3 linked regions of the Homo sapiens genome follow. The protein of the gene in region 1 interacts with the protein of each later gene in a pairwise test. Each region holds a gene or a part of one and is shown on either strand. Other genes may lie near its edges.

Region 1 (8,506 bases):
AACTGATGTCCTGAAGAACACAGAGCTAAGTTGGGGAAGTAACTCAAGCCAGTTTAGGTTCAGGCTCAATTGTGTTACTGCAAGAGCGGTTCTGCCTTTGTGTCTGGCTCCAAGAAGTGTCTTAGTAATCTTTCTACTGCTCCTGTCTCTTGAGGCTAGGGACCTGCTTTGCTCTTTTAAGTCCTCTTCCCAAGGACTTTCTGCTTCTGATGATTGTTGCCCTGCTAACTGCTAGCGCATTTTATTTCCTGCTTGCCTGCTCGCCAGGAACTCCTCTGTACTTCACCTGTTATGGGGTCCCAGTTGTACTGAACATCTCCCCTCCCCCCACCACCTCCACCAGCAACTGCATACATAATTGGATTTGTTTTGCATATGATAGGACTTTTCAGGTACCCTGTTCTGGTTACCAGGCCATCAGCATCACAGTGAGTCTGTTCCGTGCCTCCTGACCCCACCCCCAACATTGACACTTCACCCTCTCCTGCACCCTGACCCCCAGGTAGTCTAATTCCAGGACTTCCCTTTTCCAAGGCAGCAGTCAACCATATTGTATTCTTCTCTATCTTGGAAAAATCACTAAACTCAGTTTTTCAGAGAGAGACACAATCACTGCTCTAGGCATTGTTGTATATGTTTTATATAGGTTATCCCACTTCCCAACAGCCCCTGAGAGGAGAGTGTTATCCCCATTGCACATTAAGGTAAAAACCGGTGTAGAAACGGCCCAAAGGCAGCAATCTAGGTTTTAAATAGAGATGAGCCTTGCTCCAAGGCTAGTCTAACATGCTGCCCCCACCACGTTCCACCTGGTGACAGTATAGTCTAATTGCAGGAAATGTACTTGCAGGAGGAGAGAGATGGTTTCTTGAGATTCGGATTTGAAAGTCTATAAATACCAAATATTATCATAGTCATAAATGTTTTTGGGTCACCTGATCTCAGTTGTAGATTTACAATAGAGGGCTGTAGATGTAGCAGAAACAAGCTATCTTAAAAATAGGATCCCCCATCACTCAACACCTCCCTACCACCCACCCTTCACCCCGCAAAAAACACTACCAGGGGTTTTGTTTTGTTTTTTGGGTTTGTTTTTGTTTTTGTTTTTTTTGCTTACTGCTTCTGCCATTACTTCCTTCCACAGCCTGCAAAGGAAGGTAGGGAAGGGAGGAGCAGAAAAAAGGGATTGACTTCTCACTTTGACTGCTAAAGTCAACTGCCTAGAATTTTCCAAAGGTGCTGAGGCTGAGCAGTGTGGAATGGGTGAGCTGTTGCTGTCTTTTAGGTCCCTTCAGGCATTGTTCTCTGTCAGAATCGGCATTGGTCTCAATGAGAATGACATACAATGCAGTAAATGATATGGCTTCTAGGACCCTAGACGGAACTACACTTTTATACCTAATGTTATTGCTATCAGTCATTCCTCCCTACCCCTGGCCATCCAGCATCCTGGTAACAAATCAACTCTTCTTCTTCTTTTTCTTGCTTTTTTTTTGGTTGGTTTGTTTTTAAGAGACAGGGTCTTGCTCTCTTGCTGGACTACAGTGCCATAATCATAGCTTACTATAATCTTGAGCTCTTTGGCTCAAGTGATCCTCCCACCTCAGCCTCCCGAGTAGCTAGGACTACAGGTATGCACCACCATGCCCGACTATTTTTTAAATTTTTTGTAGAGTTGAGGTGTTGAAATGTTGCCCAGCCTGGTCTCAAACTCCTGGCCTTAAGCGATCCTTTCACCTTGGCCTCCCAAACAGATCAATCCTTCTAAAGAACTGACTTAGTCATTCCCCTGCTCAATTGTCTTTGCTGTCTCCTTGCACCTCAAACACTTTGCTTGATAATTCCAGGTCTTCGCAACCTATCAGGTGCCTTACGTACCTTTTCAGTCTTCACTCCTGTGACTCTTGCAAGCACTTTTCCCTCCACTCAAATCAGAATAGACTGCAGTACTAGAACTTACTTTGCATTTCCACCTCTCTGTCAGGAACATCCTGTCTGTCCTCTCCAGTTCATCAGGCCCAGCTCCACCATCCCTCCCCTGCTTGCCATCAAGCAGTGTACACAGGACTGCATGGCAGCTCTTTTCTCATGTGGGTCACTCTACACTGTGTCCTTGAATGATTCTGCACCCCGTAGAGAGGGGGATGTGAGGCAGGAAGGCTAACTTAGCTGCGTGTTCTCTCAGAAGGAAGGAATGAAGGAATGGCCAGAGGAGTAGACACCCTTGGAGACTGCCCACCACGAAGGCTATCAGTAAACCACCTTTTTGTACACAAACACTGATGTAGGGATTTTTTTAATGTATGGGCTGTACCTTTTTTTAGTAAGAATTCAAATTTTATTGAGCCCCAAGGGGGAAAAATTCAACTTTATTGATAGGAAAAGTATCAATGAAGAAAGTTGCCTTGCATTTTCATCACTAAAATGACAGTATTTGTATATATTCCAAAAGTAGCAATGCAAAGGCAGTTTTCCTTATTTTTATGTGAAATTATGAGATGTGAGGGCCTGGGCTGCCCATCACTGATACAAACTTTATAACTTGGCTCTGGAGATTAACCTGCCTGAGATCCTGTGCCCTAACAAGCTCCAGAAATGAGAATATCAAGGTTCTTCTCTGGCCTCCAGCAACTGGAGGCCTTGTATTAGCTGAGATTCTTCTGTGTTAACACAGCAGATTCCCTGAGTTCCAGGACTCCATTACTTGTCTTAATTCTTTAGCCTCCCTTGAGGATAACGATCATATAGTACACTCTTTTTACCCTATTCTTCTGATGAGAGGCCAGCACAGTGCCTTTTGCATAGTGGGTCATCAAGAAATTCCTGTTCATGATGATGAAGAAATGACTTGAGAGAAAGTGACTTCACCCATGTGTGTTGAATTTTTATTTTCTTTAAAACAACACATCTACTTAGTGGAAGTCATATTCAGGAAATATTCTTTATTGTACATACATGGAACCTAGGGCTCCAGCTTCCTTTACTCACCTAGCTGGACTCTCTCAACAGTACCACCTGTTAACAGATGTGGCCCCACACATAGGCATGTATGTGCCTTGCTTATGCTTGGTACAATCGAGAAGCTCTCAAAGGTGTTGCTTATGCCAAATATCCTAAAACTATTTTCCCACTGCCCTAAGGTCTTGCCTCAATTTTCAACATGACTTTTTTTTTTTTTTTGATTAAGTAAGGACTCTGTTACTAGGGAGGAAAAATACATAAAGTTATAACAACCTGATGACATCTTAGTTCTGATCAGTTTATCTGACAGGCCTCCCATTGCTCGGAACTCCCACGGCATTTAGGAGATACCTTTTATCACTGCAGTGTATTGGAATGATCTCTTTTCCTGTTTTTCAAGCCACTGAGAGCTGCTTCAGGCGATTTCCAGCACCAGGCACAATTTGCCTGGCACATGGCGGGCCTTCAAAAAGATTGTTAAACCAAACTTAAGCAGCCTGCTCCCTAGGCAAGCCTTGAGTTCCGAAATGAGTGCCTGAAAAAGCAAGCCAAGGGATGTAGTCTTGTGGTGAGGAAGTATTTCCACCAAAGGCACTGCTTGGTTGGTTTCTGCAAGGGGCGAGAGAACCACCATAGACAAACTTGCTCCTGTCACAGCTTGGCTAACCTTGACCGGTGGCTTATCTATGAAGGTGAGCAGCCTGGTTCTAATGAAGAGAACTGCCCTCAGTAATTAAAAGTTCATCATCTACAGACCCAACCCTAACCTCATAATCTAATTTAGTGTTCCCCATCCCAACAAGACCGAACCAGCTTCCTGAGGACAGGTTCTGCATCATGTACATTTCTTGTGTTCTTAAGAGTCTAGCACAAAGTTTGGCACATAATAGGAACTAAAAAAATGATGACTAACAAACACGAAGGGCTTACCATATGCCGGGCACTCCTCTAAGCATTTTATATGTATTAATTCATTTAATCCTCACAACACTAAGAGACAGATACTATTGTTATTGTCCCCATTTTACAGAAGGGGAAAGCAAAGCACCTAGGAGTTTATGTGACTTGCTCAAGGTCACATAGTTCCACAATCCATGCTTTTAGAAACTATGCCTTAGAGCGTTTATTAGTATCATTTTTATTTTTATAGAGACGGGGGCGGAGGTGGGGGGTGGGGGGTAGTTGTCCCCATGTCGTCCAGGCTGGTCTTGAATTCCTGGGCTTAGGTGAACCTCCTGCCTCGGCCTCCCAAAGTGCTGGGATTACAGGTGTGAGCCACTGTGCCCAGACTCTTAGTGTATTTAAATAGGTGTGAATGAATAAATCTCTCCCGGAACCATAACTTTATAGGAAATTGTTTGCACCTCCTGGTACACCACTAAGGCACGGTCTCCCACACTAGGTTGTTCCTAGCGCACGGTCGGTCATTCGTTGACCTTTACCCACCCTCAGTTCCTATCGCAGTATCACTTCTCGCGCCATAGCAAGGCTACCGTGCGAAGCTCTAGCCACCAGGGGGCACTGTGGCCACAGGTCCTTTTCCCCTCCGGCCCTTAGCGACCCCCAGAGGGGCGGAGCCAACGTTGGGCGGAGCCCGCGAGCCGCCCACAGCGCCAGCTATCCCGGCGGGCCGCGCGCGCGGCCGCGTTTGAATGGCCCTGAGTGGGACTCGGCCCAGAAGCCGAGGGACTCTCTAGGCTGCCGGGCGCTGGTCGTCAGCGCCGAGGCTGGGCTGAGGCGCCGCGGTACCATGAGGCGCCGGTAAGTGACTGCCGAGCCGGTGCGAGCCCCGCGCCCGCAGCTGCCCTGCCCTGGCAGGGCTACTCCAGCCGGGCTTGGCCGCGCCCTGGGCCCACCTGCAGGCCCCGCGGCGGCCTCGGCTCGGCCGGGCTCGCGGCAGCGCTGCCGGGTCCCGGGGCGGGGCGGCAAGGCCGGGGCGGAGCCCCTCTGCCGGTCCCTGCGGGGAGAGTCGGGCAGCGGGCGCTGGGGGGCTCCAGGGGACTGGGCCGGGAGAGGCGTGGACCGAACCTGTTGTCACTTATTTATCTTCGGGTGGAGTCGACAGCTGCACCTGGGGAAGGGGAAGGACAGAACGAGTGTGGGGCGAGCATTTTTGAGGACAGGTTTTCCGCAGAGCGCCTAGGCCCGGCCCAGGCATTTCCTTATTTTCCGACGGGTCCTCGGATTCCTGACGGATGAGCTTTTGTTTCGCAGGACAAAAACTTGACATAACTGCATAAGAATTGTCGATTGCAACTTTAAAAACCTTACTGTATTTTCTGAAAAGTTGTTCTGTAAAGTATCTAGGCTTTTACTACGCTCTTATATTGCTTAAATATGGAGATAACAAAGAGTTGGTTTGTTTTCTTGTGGCTTATAAAGTTCCTTGAAAACAGAGATACCTATGTCAGTTTCTTTGCTGATTTAAAAAAAATTGTAAGAGAAATTAGGTGTGTAATAATCATCAGTTCAGCACTTGCGAGAATTATGAGAAACTAGTCCACCTAATAGCTTAAATCTGCTGGGTTTTTTGGAGTTTCTTTGGATAGCCAGCTTCAGACTTGAATTGAAACGTCATCCATTGAGGCTTTTACTTGGCTAATAACTAATATTAGCCAATAATAATATTAGCCAGTGTGATCATAATGATGGGCAATATTTATTTTGTGCTTTCTATGCGCTGGGCGTATTAAGAGCTTTACTTTGGGATATATACTGTTGTCCCCATTTTGACAGTGAAGAAACTAAGGCACAGGAAATTTTAGTATTGTAACTTTTGTACCGTACAGGGTTACACAGCTAATATAATTAACACCCGAGCAGGCTGGCTCCACGCTTTTAACTCTGTTGCTCTACTACCTCCTTTATCTGTGGCTCTTTTTAGTTTACAAAGCCCTTTCATTTCATTTACTTAAACTTCGGAGACCTGAGTGTGCTTTTGTGTACACATACATTCATTCACACACCATTCATTCAAGTTTTCTGCTCTTGATGATTATACTTAAGGTTTGTGCCTGAGCAAAAAATCCATTGACTATTTTAAGATAAATGGAGTTCATAAGCTTTATGTGTGTTATAATTTATGTTTTCAATTCCTTTATATCCTTTCCTGAAAGTTTTGAAAGTGTTAGTCTTAGCAACTTATGTATTACTTTAAAATAAAAAATTACATGTTAAATGTTTTCATCCCTAAAACTTATTGAGTGGTTATTCTGTACTTGAAATGGTTATACTTAAACTAATACCTCCTTGACAAGGAATAAATTTCAAAAGCAAAATCACTTAGTAAGAAATCAGCAGTTTATACTTATCTATAGCAGAGCTTTTAAATGTCATTCATCAGTTACAAAGCTTTCGATTGCCTGTATGCCCAACAGGGTGGTAGACCCAATTGGCTATACAAAAGAAATGTGCCGCAAGAATGACACTATGGACTTTGGGGACTTGGTAGAAAGAGAGTGGGAGGGGGATGAAGGATAGAAGACTACACATTGGATACAGTGTTCACTGCTCAGGTAATGGGTGCACCAGAATCTCGGAAATCACCCCTGAAGAACTGATTCATGTAACCAAACACCACTTGTTCCCCAAAAACCTATTGAAATAAAAAATAATAAAAATAAAATAAAAAATGTGCCAGGACAACCAACCTTAGGGAGATTAATCTAGTTTGGGTTATGAGATTAACAACAAAAAATATATATGACACTCTTCGTTAGTACAGTGGATGAATGCAGAACTGAACTGGGTAAAGCTTCTGCGAAAAACTAACAATTGCAGGATTTATGTAGGGCACTGAACAGAAGGGTGGATGGTGGGGCTAGGCAGGGTTGGTAATCCCAACACTTTGGGAGGCCAAGACAGGAGGATCTCTGGAAGCCAGGAGTTCGAGAGCAGCCTAGGCAACATAGCGAGACCATATCTCTACAAAAAATTTAAAATATTTTGCCAGGCATGGTGGCATGTGTCTGTAGTCCCAGCTACTTGGGAGGCTGGGGTGGGAAGATCGCTTAAGCCCAAGAGGTCAAGGCTACAGTGAGCCGAGATTGTGCCACTGCACTTCAGTGCAGCCACAGAACTGGTGTGGCTCACACCTGTAATCCCAGCACTTTGGGAGGCCAACGGTAGGAGGAAAGCTTGAGCCCAGAAGTTTGAGACCAGCCTGGGCAACATACCAAGACTCCATCTCTACAAAACATTTTAAAATTAGGGCCAGTGGGTCATGCCTGTAATCCTAGCACTTTGGGAGGCTGAGGCAGGTGGATCACAAGGTCAGGAGATCGAGACCATCCTGGCTAACACGATGAAACCCTGTCTCTACTTAAAATACAAAAAATTAGCTGGGCGTGGTGTCACACGCCTGTAGTTCCAGCTACTTGGGAGGCTGAGGCAGGAGAATCGGTTGAACCCAGGAGGCAGAGGTTGCAGTGAGCCGAGATCGCACCACTGCCTTCCAGCCTGGGCGACAGAGTGAGACTCCATCTCAAAAATAAAATAAAATAAAATTAGGCAGGTGTAGTGGCATGCGCCTGTAGTCACAGCTGCTTGGGAGGCTGAGGTGAGAGGATTCCTTGAGTCCAGAAGTTGGAGGCTGCAGTGAGCCATGATCATATCACTGCACTCCAGCCTGGGTGACAAAGCAAGACCCTGTCTCAGGGAAAAAAAAAAAAAAAAGTATTGTCTAGTAACAACAAGATGCATCATAACATTACACTAGTCAGTATTATGTTGATGTTTTATCAATCATTATATTTGTTGATCCATGTTAGTTAATTTGGTGCTTTCTGGAAAATGTATTTAGGAATATAATGTTTTTTAATTAAACACCTTAAACCTAATACAAATGGTACTTTTACTGGGAGCATACACTTTTTAAATTGGAAGGGTGTAATTTGACTTTTCTTTTCTTTTTTTTTTTTTGAGACGGAGTCTTGCTCTTGTCTCCCAGGCTGGAGTACAGTGGCAAGATCTTGACTCACCACAACCTCCACCTCCCGGGTTCAAGCTATTCTCCTGCCTCAGCCTCCTGAGTAGCTGGGATTACAAGCACCCACCACCACGCCCGGGTAATTTTTGTATTTTTAGTTGAGACGGGGTTTCGCCATGTCGGCCAGGCTGGTCTTGAACTCCTGACCCAGGTGATCCGCCCACCTCGGCCTCCCAAAGTGCTGGGATTACAGGCGTGAGCCACCATGCCCGGCGTAATTTGACTTTTCTTTGCCAGGTTCAAATGCTGTGTTTACTATTTCTTGCTCATCTAAGTATTTTTTCACTACCAGCTTAATACCCCTTAACTTTGGAGACTTCTGCGTTATATTTACCATTCTTGTTCTTGGAGCATAATGAGGGTAGAAATGAGAGAAAAGGTATTTTGAAAGGACTCCCTTTTTTGCTTCCTGTAACTACCTCTCTCTCCTTCAGTTTTATATACTGTCTGAAATTCTTTTTGCCTTGAGCAAGTCACCCAGAAACCTACCACCTATGTATGAGTCATGAGATGCTCATTCTAGCATCTCCTCTGCCCACTAGCATACTCTTAAGATGC
Region 2 (8,363 bases), on another chromosome or scaffold:
TTTCTTGAACCTGGGAGGCAGACGTTGCAGTGAGTGGAGACTGCGCCACTGAACTCCAGCGGGGGCGACAGTGAGACTCTGTTTAAAAAAAATAAATTAAAAAAAAAAGAATGTACTATTTAGACAAATGTATAAGAGAGGAAGGTGAAAGGAGCCAGGACTTTGTTTATTCAAAGGTCACAGTTTCTGTGGCTTGGAAGGATCAGTAAGATTTAGGTATGCAGAGAGCAAAGGCAGACACGTCGAAGAGTGCTTTGCATGTTTTTGTCTCACACTTGTCTTTGCAGGACCCAGCCTTGATGCCCACTTGGGAGGCAGAAAGCACCGGCACCTGGTAGAACTACGAGCTGCGAGAAAGGCCCAGGGACTTCGAAGTGTGTTTGTCAGTGGCTTTCCCAGGGATGTGGATTCTGCTCAGCTCTCTGAGTACTTCCTAGCATTTGGACCTGTGGCCAGTGTTGTCATGGACAAGGACAAGGTAAAGTGAATGGCTCTCGGGTTAAAGAATGAATCAGTGCTGGGCGCGATGGCTCACGCCTGTAATCCCATCACTTTGGGAGGCTGAGGCAGGCGGATTACCTGAGGTTAGGAGTTTGAGACCAGCCTGGCCAACATGGTGAAACCCCATCTCTACTAAAAATAAAAAATTAGCTGGGTGTGATGGCGCATGCCTGTAGTCCCAGCTACTTGGGATGCTGAGGCAGGAGAATCGCTTGAACCCGGGAGGTGGAGGTTGCAGCAAGCTGAGATCGTGCCACTGTGCTCCAGCCTGGATTACAGAGCAAGACTCCGTCTTAAGAAAAAAAAGAATGAATCAGATGTGCTGTGTACCAAAGAGACAAGAGAGAGAAACCAACAGCCTCTTTGAGCTGGTTCCTAATGTGGCTTATTCTTGATGGACATCACAGTACTTGGGCTAGACCAGCTTTGGGAGCTTCTCACACCTCCCCCACCCCTTGAATTTTTATTTTTATTATTATATTTTTGAGTGCAGTGGCACAATCTCAGCTCACTGTGACGTCTACCTCCTGGGTTCCAGCAATTCTCACACCTTAGCCACCCAAGCAACTGAGATTACAGGCGCGTGCCCCCATGCCCAGCTAATTTTTGTATTTTTAGTAGAGACAGGGTTTCACCATGTTGGCCAGGCTGGTCTCGAACTCCTGACCTCAGGTGATCCGTGCACCTCAACCTCCCCAAATGCTGGGATTACGGGCGTGAGCCACTGCTCCCAGTCCCACCCTTTGGATTTTATCACTTCACCAGAGTTAGTCACTGGGGGATTTTTTTGTGTGTGTCATCTATTGATTCAGTGAATTCTTTGCCAAATATTTATTCACAGCTAACTTTGTACTAGGCACTATGCTTAGGGCTGCATTCTGAGTAGTGAATGGGGTAGATATGGTCCCTGCTCTCACAGAGCCTATAGTCTAGAGGAGAAAGTAAACAATTAAGTAATTATAGTGAAAGTTGGTGCTTAAAGAACAACATACCATTGGATCAACTCCACAAGAACCTGGTTGATAAACCAGTTAGCAGTTTATTAACTTACACTGAGGGTACTAAGGTTGTTTGGTTAGAACACCCTGTCCTTTGGAGAGTGTTAGATAAACAAGCTTGTGCTTTTTGTGTTGCTTCCCTGTAGGTTTTGGTCCCTTGAAAAAAGTTCACTGTTGAGGTGCTGTGTTCCTTGGTCATACTGTGGTTCTGAGGCTGTACTCTTGTTATGTAGGCATGGCTTAGGTGATCCAAAATATCCCTTTGCAGCCCAGGTTATCTTTTAGAATGGGGTGGAGCCTGTGTTTGTTAGGGATTGCATTCAGCAACCAAACTACAAATGGCTTAAACAATAGGAATTTAGTTTTTCTCATGTAACAAGAAGTCCAGACCTGGACAGTTCAGGGCTTTGCTGTTTTCCTGCTCTGCCATTATTGGTATGTGGCTCTTCATAGTTACGATACTGCTGCCCCATATCTTCAGAAAAGAAGAAGGGGCAGCTTGTAGGGCAGAGTATAAAAGGTTAGTGTCGGCCAGGTCCAGTGGCTCACGCCTGTAATCCCAGCACTTTGGTAGGCTGGGGCGGGTGGATCATGTGAGGTCGGGAGTTCGAGATCAGCCTGACCAACATGGAGAAACCCCGTCTCTACTAAAAATACAAAATTAGCGGGGCGTGGTGGCACATGCCTGTAATCCCAGCTACTCGGGAGGCTGAGGCAGGAGAATCGCTTGAACCCGGGAGGCGGAGGCTGCCTTGAGCCGACATCGCGCCATTGCATTCCAGCCTGGGCAACAAGAGCGAAACTCCATCTCATAAAAAAAGGTTAGTGTCAGCTGAGTTTGAGTCCCCTCCTCTATTTTTTTTCCTTTTATTCTGAGAAAAATGCCTTTTCTTTTTCCTTTTTTTTTTTTTTTTTTTGAGAGGGAGTTTTTTTGTGGTAGAATTCTGGCCACTGAGATATAAGTAGAAGTTTACTGAGGAGGCCTTTAGAAAAAGTATTTCTCTCGACTGGGCACAGTGGCTTACGCCTGTAATCCCAGCACTTTGGGAGACTGAGGTGGGAGGATCACCTAAGGTCAGGAGTTCGAGACCAGCCTGGCCAACATGGCGAAACCCCATCTCTACTAAAAATACAAAAATTAGCTGGGTGTGGTGGCAGGCGCCTGTAATCCCAGCAAGCAATTCTCCCGCCTCAGCCTCCCGAGTAGCTGGGACTGCAGGCGCGTGCCACCACACCCGGCTAATTTTTGTATTTTTAGTAGAGACCAGGTTTCACCATGTTCGCCAGGCTGGTCTCGAACTTCTGACCTCAGGTGATCCGCCTACCTCGGCCTCTCAAAGTGCTGGGATTACAGGTGTGAACTACTGTGCCTGGCCTAATTTTTTGTATTTTTAGTAGAGACAGGATTTCTCCATGTTGGCCATGCTGGTCTTGAACTCCTGGCCTCAAGTGATCTGCCCACCTCAGCCACGCAAACTGCTGGGATTACAGGCGTAAGCCACTGTGCTCCGCCTAATGATTAACATTTTTATTGAGGAACTACTATGCATCAATTGTGTGCTAAGCACATTATGTACACTTGCATCTAATCTCCACAACATTCTCTTAAGGGAAATGGTCAGTAGGCAGTTGGAGATTTGGGAGTTTAAGACACTGCTTGTGAGGCAGTTACAAGTTACTTAACCTCTTTGAGTTTCAGTTTCTTAATTTGTAAAATGGAAATAATAATACATACTTCGTAGGTGTCTTATGAGCCTCAGACATCGTTTGTGTGAACTGCTTAGTTTATAATAAGCCCTCAACAAATAGTAACTCTAGCTATGGATGGTGGTGTTGAGAGGACAAAAATGGCAAGGACACAGGCTCCTTATTTTTATTTATTTATTTATTTGAGATGGAGTTTTGCCCTTGTTGCCCAGGCTGGAATGCAGTGGCGCGAACTTGGCTTGGGGCGATCTCAGCTCACCGCAAACTCTGGCTCCCGGGTTCAAGTGATTCTCCTGCCTCAGCCTCCCGAGTAGCTGGGATTACAGGCATGCGCCACCGCGCCTGGCTAATTTTGTATTTTTAGTAGAGATGGGGTTTCTCCATGTTGCTGGTCTGGAATTCCCGACCTCAGGTGATCCGCCTGCCTCGGCCTCCCAAAGTGCTGGGATTACAGGCTGGGATTACAGGCGTGCGCCACCGTGCCAGGCCTGTTTATTTATTTTTGAGGTGGAGTCTCATTCTGTCTCCCAGGCTGGAGTGCAGTGGCACGATCTTGGCTCACTGCAACCTCTGCCTCCTGAGTAGCTGGGTTTACAGGCGCCTGCCACCATGCCCGGCTAATTTTTGTATTTTTAGTAGAGACGGGTTTCACCATGTTGGCCAGGCTGGTCTGGAACTCCTGGCGTCACATGATCTGTCCGCCTCAGCCTCCCAGGGTGCTGGGATTACATGCATGAGCTACCACGCCCAGCTGACACAGTCTTCTGAATCTGCCAGTCCTGCCCTCCCTGATGCCTTCTGTGAGGTTTTGGAGAAAAATAGGAGCACAGACAGGCCCAGTGAAAGAGACTCTTAATTTCCATCTGGGGCTTTGGTTACAAACTTGGTGGTGTACTGCAGTCTGGTAAACTGTGGTTTATTAGAGTCAGAAGACTGGCCTGGGCAGGTCCAAGTAGCTACCTTTGTCCTTGGCCTCACTTCAGTTCTTTGCTGTGTTTGGCATAGGGGTAGAAGTAAGTCTGCGCATGGTGATGTGCCCCTATCATCCCAGCTACTGAGGAGGCTGAGGCGGGAGGTTCGCTTGAGCCCAGGAATTCAAAGCTACAGTGAGCTATAATCACATCACTGCACTCCAGTCTTGGTGACAGAGCAAAATCCTGTCTTTAAAAAAAGAAGGGTGTGGCCGGGCCAGGTGGCTCACACCTGTAATCCCAGCACTTTGGGAGGCTGAGGTGGTTAGATCACCTGAGGTCAGGAGTTTGAGACCAGCCTGGCCAACATGGTGAAACCGTCTCTACTAAAAATACAAAAAAATTAGCTGGGCGTAGTGGCAGATTCCTGTAATCCCAGCTATTCAGGAGACTGAGGCAGGAGAATTGCTTGAACCCGAGAGGCGGAGGTTGGAGTGAGCCGAGATCGTGCCACTGCACTCCAGCCTGGGCAACAGAGCGAGACTCCTTCTCAAAAAAAAAAAGTAAAATAAAATAAATAGTATACAATTCATTGGTTGGTTATTTACTATTGGGTAAAAAAATAAACAAACAAAAAGTATACAATTGGCTGGGCATGGTGGCTCATGGCCTGTAATCCCAGCACTTTGGGAGGCCGAGGCAGGTGGATCACCTAAGGTTAGGAGTTGGAGACCAGCCTGGCCAACATGGTGAAACCCCATCTCTACTAAAAATACAAAAAATTACCTGGGTGTGGTGGTGGGCACCTATAATCCTAGCTACTCGGGAGGCAGAAAGCAGGAGAATCACTTGAACCTGGGAGGCAGAGGTTGCTGTGAGCCAAGATCGTGCCACTGCACTCCAGCCTGGGTGACAGAACGAAACTCCATCTCAAAAAAAAAAAAAAAAAAAGTATACAATTTAGGGGTGGGTGTGGTGGCTGATACCTGTAATCCCAGCCCTCTGGGAGGCCGAGGTGGGAGGATCACTTGAGATCAGGAGTTTGAGACCAGCCTGGCTAATGTGGTGAAACCACATCTCTATTAAAAATACAAAAATTAGCCAGGTGTAGTGGTGCGTGTCTTTGATTCCAGCTACTAGGGAGGCTGAGGTAGGATAATTGCTTGAACCCCGGGAGGCAGAGGTAATAATGAGCCGAGAGTGTGCCACTGTACTCAAGTCTGAGTGACAGAGACACTCTGTCTCAAAAAAAAAAAAAAAAAAATACAATTCAGTGAGTGTTAGTATATTCACAGGGTTCTTCAACCCTCATGACTGATTCCAGAATGTTTTCACCACTCCAAAAAGAAACGCCTTATCCTTTCTTGGTTACTTCCCATTTGTGATTTAGGCCTGTGTACTGGTGAAGCCATCCTCCTGGTTGAGTTAATTGTTATGTATGGTGTGAGGTAAAGGTTCAACATCATTGTTTTGCATGTGGCTATCCAGTTGTCCCAGCACAATTTGTTGACAAGACTGTTCTTTCCCCATTGAATCTTCTTGACACCGTTGTTCAAAATCAGTTGACCAAAGATGTGTGAATTTCTTTCAGGGTCTCAATTCCATTCCCTTCATCTGAATGTCTATCTTTATGCTAGCACCACTCTGTCTTGGTGCTACCTTACTCTAGCAGGAACCTTTTTATAAACAAGATGAGGGTCCAGCTTTACCATTGGAGGATATAAAAGAATATGGACTTTTTTGCCTAAAGCAGTCCTGTTTTTCCTCTTCTTTTTTTTTCTTTTTGAGACGGAGATTCGCTCTTGTTGTCCAGACTGGACAGACTGGAGTACAATGCACAATCTCGGCTCACAGTAACCTCCGCCTCCCGGGTTCAAGCAATTGCCTCCTGAGTAGCTGGGATTACAGGCATGCACCACCATATCTGGCTAATTTTGTATTTTTAGTGGAGATGGGGTTTTGCCATGTTGGTCAGGCTGGTTTTGAACTCCTGACCTCAAGTGATCCACCCGCCTAGGCCTCCCAAAGTGTTGAGATTAGGCGTGAGCTACTGCGCCCGGCGTTTTTCCTCTTCTTGCTAATATTTTACCTTTAAAAAAATATGGCCAGTGAATATCATTGAACTCACCAACTTACAACAATATAGTTGTTATATTGCTGTTATTCCTAGATAGTGAGTTCTTGAAGACAGGGTTTATGAGTTTGTATTTATGCCTCGCACAGTGTTTATTACATGAATTGATTTTTTTTTTTTTTTTTTTTTGGAGACAGAGTCTCCCACTGTCGCCCAGGCTGGAGTGCAGTGGCGCCATCTCAGCTCACTGCAAGCTCCGCCTCCTGGGTTCATGCCATTCTCCTGCCTTAGCCTCCCTAGTAGCTGGGACTACAGGCGCCCACCACCACGCCTGGCTAATTTTTTGTATTTTTAGTAGAGACGGGGTTTCACCATGTTAGCCAGGATGGTCTCTATCTCCTGACCTCGTGATCCACCCACCTCGGCCTCCTAAAGTGCTGGGATTACAGGCGTGAGCCACTGCACCCAGCTGCATGAATTGATTTTTTAAAAGATTTTTAAAGTGGACTCATTCTGTTACATGGATCCTTAATAAATGTTTAAAAAAATTCTAATTATATCAGGAAAAGTTATAGGGTGGGTCATAGTGTAATCACATCATTGGGAAGAGTAGGGGACAAATAATGTAGATAAAATGAGGTTTTTAGAGGCAGACTGGGGTGAGAGTAAAATGTTTGGAATAGGAGTGAGGGAAAGAATTGTTTTTCTACTTTTTTTTGAGACAGGGTCTCGCTGTCTCTCAGGCTGGTGTGTAGTGGTGCAATCACAATCACAGCTCACTGCAGCCTCAACATCCTGGGCCCAAGTGATGCTCTTATCATAGCCTCCCAAGTAATTGGAACTACAGGTGTGTGCTGCCATGCCTGGCTAATTTTCTTTTTCTTTTCTTTTTTTTTTTGAGACAGGGTGTGGTTGTGTCACCCAGACTGGAGTGCAGTGGTGCGATCTCGGCTCATTGCAATCTCAGCCCCCGGGCTCAAGCAATCCTCCCATCTCTTCCTCTCCAGTAGCTGGGATTACCTGGCTAATTTAAAAAAATTGTACTGGCCAGGTGCAGTGGCTCACACCTGTAATCCCAGCACTTTAGGAGGCCGAGTTTAGGAGTTTAGGAATTAGAGACCAGCCTGGCCAACATGGTGAAACCCCATTTTTACTGAAAATACAAAAATTAGCTGGGCATGGTGGCATGTGCCTGTAATCCCAGCTACTAGGGAGACTGAGGCAGGAGAATCGCTGGAACCTGGGAGGCAGAGGTTGCAGTAAGCCGAGATCACCCCGCTGCACTCCAGCCTGGGTGACAGAGTAAGACTCCATCTCAAAAAAAAAAAATTGTTTGTAGAGATGGGATCTCACTATGTTGCCCTGGTTGGTCTCCAACTCCTGGGCTCAAGCAGTTCTCCTGCCTCAGCCTCCCAAAGTGCTGGGATTACAGGCATGAGTCACTGCACCTGGCTGAAAATTGCTTTTCTAGATATGTCCCCTGTTATTATGAAAACAGCAAGCAAATATTCTCAATTTATGGGATAGTCTCCATTTCAAATATTCTCATCCACTGTAGATCTCGTGCTTAGATTCTTGGTTCCAAAATCATCATCTCTGCCCCTGTTGTTTACCAGGGAGTGTTTGCCATTGTGGAGATGGGGGACGTGGGTGCTCGAGAGGCTGTCTTGTCACAGTCCCAGCACAGCCTGGGAGGACATCGCCTGCGTGTCCGCCCACGGGAGCAGAAGGAGTTCCAGAGCCCGGCCTCCAAATCCCCCAAAGGAGCGGCCCCCGACAGTCACCAGCTGGCCAAAGCGCTAGCTGAGGCTGCAGACGTGGGGGCACAAATGATAAAGCTTGTGGGGCTGAGGGAGTTGTCCGAGGCCGAGCGGCAGCTTCGCAGCCTAGTGGTGGCCCTGATGCAGGAGGTCTTCACAGAGTTCTTCCCTGGTAAGTTACCTCCCCTACTATGTCTGAGCCCTCCCTGGCCTTTGCTCTCCTGTGTCTGTATCCCCAGTCCTTCCTCCGCTAGAGGTGTTTGGTTGCTCTTCCATCTTTGTGCTCTGTTTTGTTCTTCCCCCTGCTCCTCCCTAACTTCTCTTGACCTTTCTTCTCTGCTCGGCACCCAGGCTGTGTGGTCCACCCTTTTGGCTCTTCCATAAATAGCTTCGATGTCCATGGCTGTGATCT
Region 3 (8,491 bases), on another chromosome or scaffold:
GGTTTGCAGATGGCCACCTTCTTGCTATGTTCTCCCCTGGCCTTTCCTTTGTGTGTACACAGACAGAGATGTCTCCGGTGTCTCTTCCTCTTCTTACAAGGACCCCAGTCCTATCAGATTAGAGCCCCACCATTATGACCTCACTTAACCTCAAACACCTCCCTTGAGGCCCTATCTCCAAATACAGCCACACTGGGGATTACAGGTTCAACATAAGAATTTTGGGTGAAGGCCGGGTGTGGTGGCTCACGCCTGTAATCCCTGCACTTTGGGAGACTGAGGTGGGCAGACTATTTGAGGCCAGGAGTTCGAGACCAGCCTGACCAACATGGTGAAACCCCATCTCTACTAAAAATACAAAAATTAGCCAGTTGTGGTGGTATGCACCTGTAATCCTAGCTACTTGGGAGGCTGAGGCAGGAGAATTGCTTGAACCCAGGAGGCAGAGGCTTCAGTGAGCCAAGATGGTGCCATTCTACTCCAGCCTGAGGGGACAGAGAGCGAGACTCCATCTCAAAAACAAAAAACAAACAAAAAAAAGAATTTCTGGTGGACACAGTTCAGTTCATAACACCAACTCTTCTCTGCAGGAACGCATAATGAAAGAAAGTGGTAATGGTTATTGAGCAAACCAATATACAATATCCACCACAGCTTTAAAAAAATAAAGGTTAAATTATTCATTTCAACATAAGTAATAGTATAAGTTCAGAAGCAATATAAAAAACAGGTTAAATAAATACTGTTATATTTACCCAATGGAATATCATGCAACTGTTAAAAAAAAGAATACTGGGAGCTCTATGATAAATGTCTGTACTATTATAAAAAACTCTCGGTTGGGTGCAGTGGCTCATGACTGTAATCCCAGCACTTTGGGAGGCTGAAGCAGGTGGATTGCTTGAGCCCAGGAGTTGGAGATCAGCCTGGGCAACATAGTAAGACCCTGTCTCTACAAAAAACGAAGCAAAACAAAACAAAAACAACAAAAAAACCAAAACCCAAAATTAGCTTGGAGCTGAGAGTGGTAGCACACACCTGTGGTCCCACATACTTGGGAGGCTGAGGTGGGAGGATTGCTTGAGCCCTGGAGGTTGAGGTTGCAGTGAGCTGAGATCATGCCACTGGACTCTAGCTTGGGGGACAGAGTGAGATCCTGCCTCAGAAATTAAAAAAAAAAAAGAGAGAAGAAAAGAAAACTCTCCATGTTGTTAAGTGAAAAAACTAAAATTTAGAACAAAGTGAATAGTTTACTATATGTGTAGCAAAAGAAATGTATGAATATATGTCATCTATCTTTATTCATTACCTATATATGTGTATATATACATATGTATATAAGCAGGTAGGTAGGTATTTGCTCACATATGGCATTATCTGTGAATAATACACAAGAAACATACAACGTTGGTTGCCCCAGTGGTGAGAAGAACTGGATAGCTGGGGGCAGGGATGAGAGAGGACATTTCATTTTATGTATGTATTTTGGAGGTTTTTGTTCATTTGCTTGTTTGTTGAGAAAGCAGATTCTGAGACTGAGTTTAGTGTCCAGGGTGTTGATTAGGAAATGGCCTTGGTATCCAAACCTGTGGAAGGGTGAGAAAGGAATCAGGATTGAGCAGAGGGGGAAGACCTACAATTTGGGCCTGACAACACATTCCTCCATCAAGGCCATCAAGAACTCAGGAGTTGGCTGGGCACTGTGGCTCACACCTGTAATCCCAACACTTTGGGAGGCAAAGGCAGGAGGATTGCTTGAGCCCAGGGGTTCACATCAGCCTGGGAAACAAAGTGAGACCCCCCTCTCTACAAAAAAAATTAAAAAATTAGCAAGGCATTGTGGCACGTGACTTTAGTCCCAGTTACTTAAGAGGCTGAGATGGGAGGATTGCTAGAACCTGGGCAGTCGAGGCTGCAGTAAGCCGTGATTGTGCCACTGCATTCCAGCCTGGGTGACAGAGTAAGACTGTCTTAAAAAACAAACAAACAAACAACACTCAGGAGCTGAAATAGTGCATTTAAGAGTTATCCTGCTTTGGACAACATGGACAGCCTTTTATATTTCTGCCTTGATCAGTCCCCAGACGTGGGCTGCCTTGGAAAGGGCATGAGCTCCAGAAAGGCTATTCTCTGAAACTGAAGCACTCCCTGAGGGAGCTAACAGCTGAAAGCTTTCTGTTCACAGCACTCTCAAAGGTGGGCAACATGTACTTCCTTGGATTCTGAGTGATTCATCTCTGTGTCTGTCACTTACGGCCTATATGATTATGATCTAACCTCTTGAAACTTCTCTGACCTTACCTCCAAGTACTGTTCACTTCACTTGCTCTGCTCCTTATTGTTTCTTGAGTTTCCATCTCAGAGTCCTTTTTCTTACTGTTCCTGTCTTAATTGTTCCTCCCTTAAATAACAATGAGGCCCACGACTTTCTTCCTTCATACTTCTGCTGAAATATCTGCCTACTGAGAGGACTTCCCTGATCACCTTACCTGAAATAGTACACTTCCTTTAACTTCCTTTACTTCTTTTTCTAATACTCATCACTGCTTAACATACATTTCTTTGTTTACTTTTTGTTGATGTTCATTTATGATCTCCCTCACATTGTTTGGTTCCCTGGTGTATCCTCAGTGTCTAGGATAACACAGTAACAGGCACATAGTAGGCTTTCAACAAATATTTGTTGAATGAATGAATGAAGGAGTCAGGCACTGTGCTAAGTTGTAAGATAGAATTACAAGCAAAAGTGGAGGCAGGCCTTGTTCTCATGGAGCTTGCTATCTGGATGGAGAGGCAAAATAATGCATCAATCACACAAAGCTGCAGTCATGACATGGGCTAAAATGGAAAAAAAGATATGGTAGGAGAAGAGCATGTAGAAGAGCCTTGAAAGCTTCTGTGAGAAAGTGATGTGTAAGCTGAAATCTGAAGGATGAGTAAGCTTCAATTAGGCAAAGGAACATGGAAGAATCAGGTTCATTTTTGGAAAAGATCCCTCTGGATTCAACAGGGAAGAGTGAATGAGAGGGAGCAAGGATGGGTATCTATGGGACTGTTAGGAGGGTATGGAAATCCTTCAAATGGGGGGTGATGGTTGCTTGAATTAGAGGTGACCCTGGTGGTTAGAAGAAACAACTACAGGTGAGAATTATTTATTACACAACAGATGAGGCTTATTTATGAATTGTATATGGAAGGTAAGGAAAGGGAAGTGAAAAGAAGGGCTTCTGGGTTTCCATATAACTGGATGGATGGTTGAAAGAATATTGGAAGAGAAACAGGTTTATTTTGTTTTATTTTGTGTTTATATGTGTATATGGAGAAGAACAGTGAGAGAGAAGACAGATTATGATTTTGATTTTTGACATTTTGGTTTTGAGGTGTTATTGAGACTTCCTGTATGAGATGCCAAATAGACCATTGGTTATGAGTGAAGAGCTCAGACATGTAGCTTGGGCTGGAGAAGTAAATTTTTGAGTTGTCTGCCTAGGTGGTATTTGAAAATGTGGGAGTGGATGAGATTGCCTAGGCAGAGAACATTCAGTGATAAGAGGAGAGGATGATCTTGAGGGACTGACTTGGAAAAGAGACTAACAGGACTGACTAGAGATGTTGGAAGAAAAGGAGGAGAATGTGATGTCACCTCAAAAGAGTGTTTCTAGAAGACGAGTCCGTAGCCATATCAAACCTCCTGAAAAAGGACCCGAGAACTAAAAATACCAGTTGCACTAACTAACATCATGGAGGTCATTGGTGATGCTAGTGATTTTTTTGTTGTTGTTGTTGCAGGAGAAATGTTAAGGTTAGTGGAAAATTGATGAAATGGAAACATTGTGAGTAAAAAGAGAAAAGAAAAGCTGAGGGACTATTTGGGGATGGGGGTGGAGGGATGGAGAGTTTAGTTGGTAGTGCGAAGTTTCCAAGAAGATAGGTAGGAAAGTGAGTACCAGTAAAGGGCTTATTAAAATACCAAAGAGCCCAGCACTTTGGGAGGCTGAGGCGGGCAGATCATGAGGTCAAGAGATCAAGACCATCCTGGCCAACATGGTGAAACCCAGTCTCTACTAAAAATGCAAAAATTAGCTGGGCATGGTGGCGCACACCTGTAGTCCTAGCTACTTGGGAGGCTGAGGCAGGAGAATTGCTTGAACCCGGGAGGCAGAGGTTGCAGTGAGCCGAAATCCTGCCATTGCACTCCAGACTGGTGACACAGTGAAACTCCATCACAAAAAAAAAAAAAAAAAAAAAAAAGGTCACAGAGGGACTCTGTATTGTAACAGGAGGGAAGAAAGAAAACGGCAGGGTGCAGACTTGAGTAGATTTCTGTTTGGTAGAGGTGAGATGAAGGGATTGGCTTCTATTTTCTCTGTAATGAAAGAGGAGGGATTAACTACTTTTCTAGGTGTTAATAAGGGTGCCTTGTAAACGAATTGTTTTATATGTGAATGGATGCCTTAGCTTTCTAACTTTCACAGGTAAGTAAATATATATCCATGTTCATAGCGGTGGGAACAGAAACAATAGGTGTTTAAAAATACTAGATTGAGGCCGGGCGCGGTGGCTCACGCCTGTAATCCCAGCACTTTGGGAGGCCGAGGTGGGCGGATCACGAGGTCAGGAGATCGAGACCATCCTGGCTAACCCGGTGAAACCCCGTCTCTACGAAAAATATAAAAATTAGCCGGGCATGGTGGCAGGCACCTGTAGTCCCAGCTACTCGAGAGGCTGAGACAGGAGGATGGCGTGAACCCAGGAGGCGGAGCTTGCAGTGAGCCGAGATCGCGCCACTGCACTCCAGCCTAGGCAACAGCGAGACTCCGTCTCAAAAAAGAAAAATACTAGATTGATTTTGATTCTAATAGTGATGATAATTAATCTGATGATATTCTGATGGCAAGGAAAAGTATAAGCTCCAATCAGGCCCCTGTCGTAAGCCGCCTGACAAGTGAGAGAAATGAGGTTCACAGTTGGCTGGTCACAGCACAGGGAAAGGAAATCCACCCCCACGCTCCTTCTGGTCCAGGACCCTAAGGGTTAAGATCAACGAGAGTGGGCCATCACTGTTTCCTAGAACGGCCCCAGCAAAGCCGCCGGGGGAGATGAGGGTAACTTCCTGTTTCTGCCTTCCGGGTTTGAGAGTTTAGGACCCTGGGTTGGTGGGGTCAGAGGGAGAGGGGGTACCTTCCTCCCGGACCGCTGGGGGTGCAGGGCGCCTTGGGTGTAGCACCCAGAACAGTGAGTTCCTTCTTGGGGGGAAGGGAGCCGAGGGTTGCGGGCTAGAGGAGTGGAAACAGCCCCGTCCAGGCTGCAGTGGACGTCCGGGAGAGAGTTCCCGCTGCTGCCAGGGGCGAAGGCCCAGCATCTCCCGCCGACGGGCCACCGTCATCCTTGTCCGCGGGGTCCCTTACGGGATCTTGTCGGCCGGAGACCGTCTGGTATCCTGGAACTTCACCCCCCAGCGTCTCCAACTTGTACCAGCCAGCGGTTCTTAAAACTAGGCTTCAGGCAGTGCATTTTCTTTGAAGGCTTTCTGATCAAAGCACGGCCCCACTCTGATCACATTGTTGCTCTAGAACAGTGAAAACACTCCTTCCCCGTGGAGAGACATCTTAATGGCAGCCTTGTATGGTCTTGCATTTGCCACCATTTTGCTGAGCCACTGTTCCGGGGGCTCCTTTGCTGCCAAATTTAATAGTATTTTAGTAGGGAAAATGGGGGAGATGGTAATGTGTTGCCCAGACTCTTGCTGCTTTTGTAAATACTTTGATAACAATATGTAACTTAGGACAGCAAAATATATAACTCCATTCGAACAACTCCACCCCCTTCCTTTTTTTGCATTCAGGTGTATGGTTTTTTCTCCCCCCCAACTCAAACACTGGGGATATTAGTAATGTAGACTAGTTTCACGTTTCTCTAGAACAAATCCCCACTTGCTGAGTGTGCTTAGGGAATGTCGACTCACTTTGTTAACAAGGTTTAGGAATGTAGACCTCTGTTTTAAAATGCCAGTATTCTAAATATTCTAAAATAAAGGGACTCTGAGGATTCTTTGCAGTTTGGGATTATGCCCAGCTCTGCTTCCTGTTCTAGTTTACGATAATAGATCAGAGGGTGAAAAAGGTCAGCATCCAAACAGACTTGGAGCTCAGTCCTGCTCTACCACTTTCTAGGTGACCTTAGGAAAGTTTCTTAATACCTTTCAAACTCATCCTATAAAATGCTGGTAGTTGTTCATACACTTCAGAGGGCTACTGTAAGAATTAAATGACAAATGTGTGCAAATTATTTCATTCACTACCTGGCACATAATAGGCAGTAATGGTGAAGATACAATATAAGTACATATACTATTTTTTGTTTTTAAAATGTGTGCATTTGTATATCCTTTTACGTCCTTATTTTTCTCCCAAATAATGATACTCTTTATATTCTGAAATGGATGCCAAAAGTCCATATGTCACTGCCTTCCTGTGATAGATCACATTTTCTTCTTTTTCTTTTTCTTTTTTCTTTTTTTTTGTTGAGACAGAGTCTTGCTCTGTCACCCAGGCTGGAGTGGTGCAATGGCACGATCTCGGCTCACTGCAACCTCTGCCTCCTGGGTTCAAGCGATTCTCCTGCCTCAGCCCCCTGAGTAGCTGGGACCACAGGCGCCCGCCACCACACCCGGCTAATTTTTTGTATTTTTAGTAGAGATGGGGTTTCACCGCATTAGCCAGGATGGAACATTTTCTAGTCCCTTAAAATAGGTTAGTGATTGTTGGCTCCAGAAGACGAAGTTTAGGCTGAAATGGATATTGTGAATATGATAGACTTAGGAACTAAGTGCAAGGAGGAAGAGGTCCCTCTTTAGCCTCCTTTTTATATTGCAGGGTTATTGGCTATAATTATTCCACCTCGGCTTTGTCCTAATTTCTCTTTACTGGTTATATAAATCCTAACTTTCCTTTGAAATTGACTTCAAAGGTTTCCTTCTGTCAAGACCAAGTTATTCTTTTGAAACTAAACAGGGTGCTTTTTTTCTTTAGCTGCTGCTTATGCCTTCATATTGATTCCTTGAAGTCTTTATAAGTTTTATTATTGGTGTCTTAAAAAAAATACTTTGCTTTTTAAAGTAAAAGTGTTTCTAAGCTACGTGTGGACAATGAGGATTAGTATTCTGTCTTTGAAGCTTGATCCTCAGACCTTTAATGTGAAGATTTACTTTTTTGCATTGTTATTTCAGGGTTAACCCTTAATTCTAAACACTTAGATCTGAGATAAGATTTTCTAAAAGGGCTGCTAAAAGTTGTGTTTCTTATTTTCGGTATGGTTCATGGAACATTCTATGCCTCCTATTGTTGTGTTGGAATGGTTGGGAAGGAAGGAGGAAGAATAAGCTTTAACAAATACCTCCAAACATAATTTATTTCCTTCCACAGGGTTTCTGATCTCTAACTTGGCTGTGATCATTGTGATGGAGCAAGAAAAAAAACTGTTGGTCTCAGATTCTAACAGCTTTATGGAGAGGGAGAGTTTGAAAAGCCCTTTCACAGGTGAGGGATCAAGACGATGATCTGAATCCTTAGGAAATTTGATGTAGAAAGAACAGGACACTAGAATGAGACAAACCTTAATTTAATTCCTTGTTCTGTCACTTATAAGCTGTGTTAATTATTTCAGCCTCATTGTTCTCATCTTTAAGAAAATGAATAATATCTATTTCACATATATTTTAGAATTAGTGAGATACCGTATCCAAAGCTACTGTTCTTAATAAATAGTGGCTATTGTTATTTCTATAGCATTTGCTCAGATTTTAGCAAAGCTATTGTCTAGTTTTTACCTGAGATGGTATCCTGTTCAATTTAACTTCTATTCACATCAATCCTGTTTTTTCTCTTAAGTCTTCTAGAACAAAACCTAATGCATTTATTTTTAGATTGATGTTCCCTTTGCCAATAATGATTCAAATAATTCATTATTGTTGTTGCTAGGTACAAAAAAAAATCCACCTGCTTCTGGTAAACAGAGGAAAAGAAGTAAAACTGTCTTTAAAAACTTTTTTATATGAAATTATTTATGAGGTTTTACAGTGTTATTTCCTCTCTTCCACTGCAATTTAGAATTTACTTCTCTGGCAGAGATTTGGAATATGGTTAGAATATTTGTTTATTCTTGCAGGAGATACAAGTATGAATAATTTGGAAACTGTTCACCACAATAATTCTAAGGCAGATAAACTTAAAGAGAAACCTTCAGAATGGTCTAAAAGACATAGACCACAACATTATAAGCATGAGGATGCAAAAGAAATGCCACTGACATGGGTTCAAGATGAGATTTGGTGTCATGATTCCTATGAGAGTGATGGCAAGTCAGAGAATTGGGGAAATTTTATAGCTAAAGAGGAGGAAAAACCCAATCACCAGGAATGGGACTCAGGAGAACATACCAATGCCTGTGTCCAGCAGAATTCATCCTTTGTAGACAGACCCTATAAATGTTC

What was found. The genes of interacting proteins can lie anywhere in the genome.
Region 2: the proteins of KATNBL1 (region 1) and TUT1 interact in binary tests that used the Homo sapiens proteins (3 or more experiments, as listed by UniProt).
Region 3: the proteins of KATNBL1 (region 1) and ZNF572 interact in binary tests that used the Homo sapiens proteins (3 or more experiments, as listed by UniProt).

Annotation. Positions count from the first base shown.
Region 1 is NC_000015.10:34,206,167-34,214,672, reverse strand, and holds the start of KATNBL1 (KATNB1-like protein 1), read left to right. Parts: upstream 1-4,576; 5' UTR 4,577-4,722; intron 4,723-8,506.
Region 2 is NC_000011.10:62,581,146-62,589,508, reverse strand, and holds part of TUT1 (speckle targeted PIP5K1A-regulated poly(A) polymerase), read left to right. Parts: intron 1-287; coding exon 288-478; intron 479-7,807; coding exon 7,808-8,123; intron 8,124-8,302; coding exon 8,303-8,363. UniProt on the Homo sapiens protein: Poly(A) polymerase that creates the 3'-poly(A) tail of specific pre-mRNAs. Localizes to nuclear speckles together with PIP5K1A and mediates polyadenylation of a select set of mRNAs, such as HMOX1.
Region 3 is NC_000008.11:124,968,182-124,976,672, forward strand, and holds the start of ZNF572 (zinc finger protein 572), read left to right. Parts: upstream 1-5,113; 5' UTR 5,114-5,235; intron 5,236-7,424; 5' UTR 7,425-7,459; coding exon 7,460-7,538; intron 7,539-8,166; coding exon 8,167-8,491. UniProt on the Homo sapiens protein: May be involved in transcriptional regulation.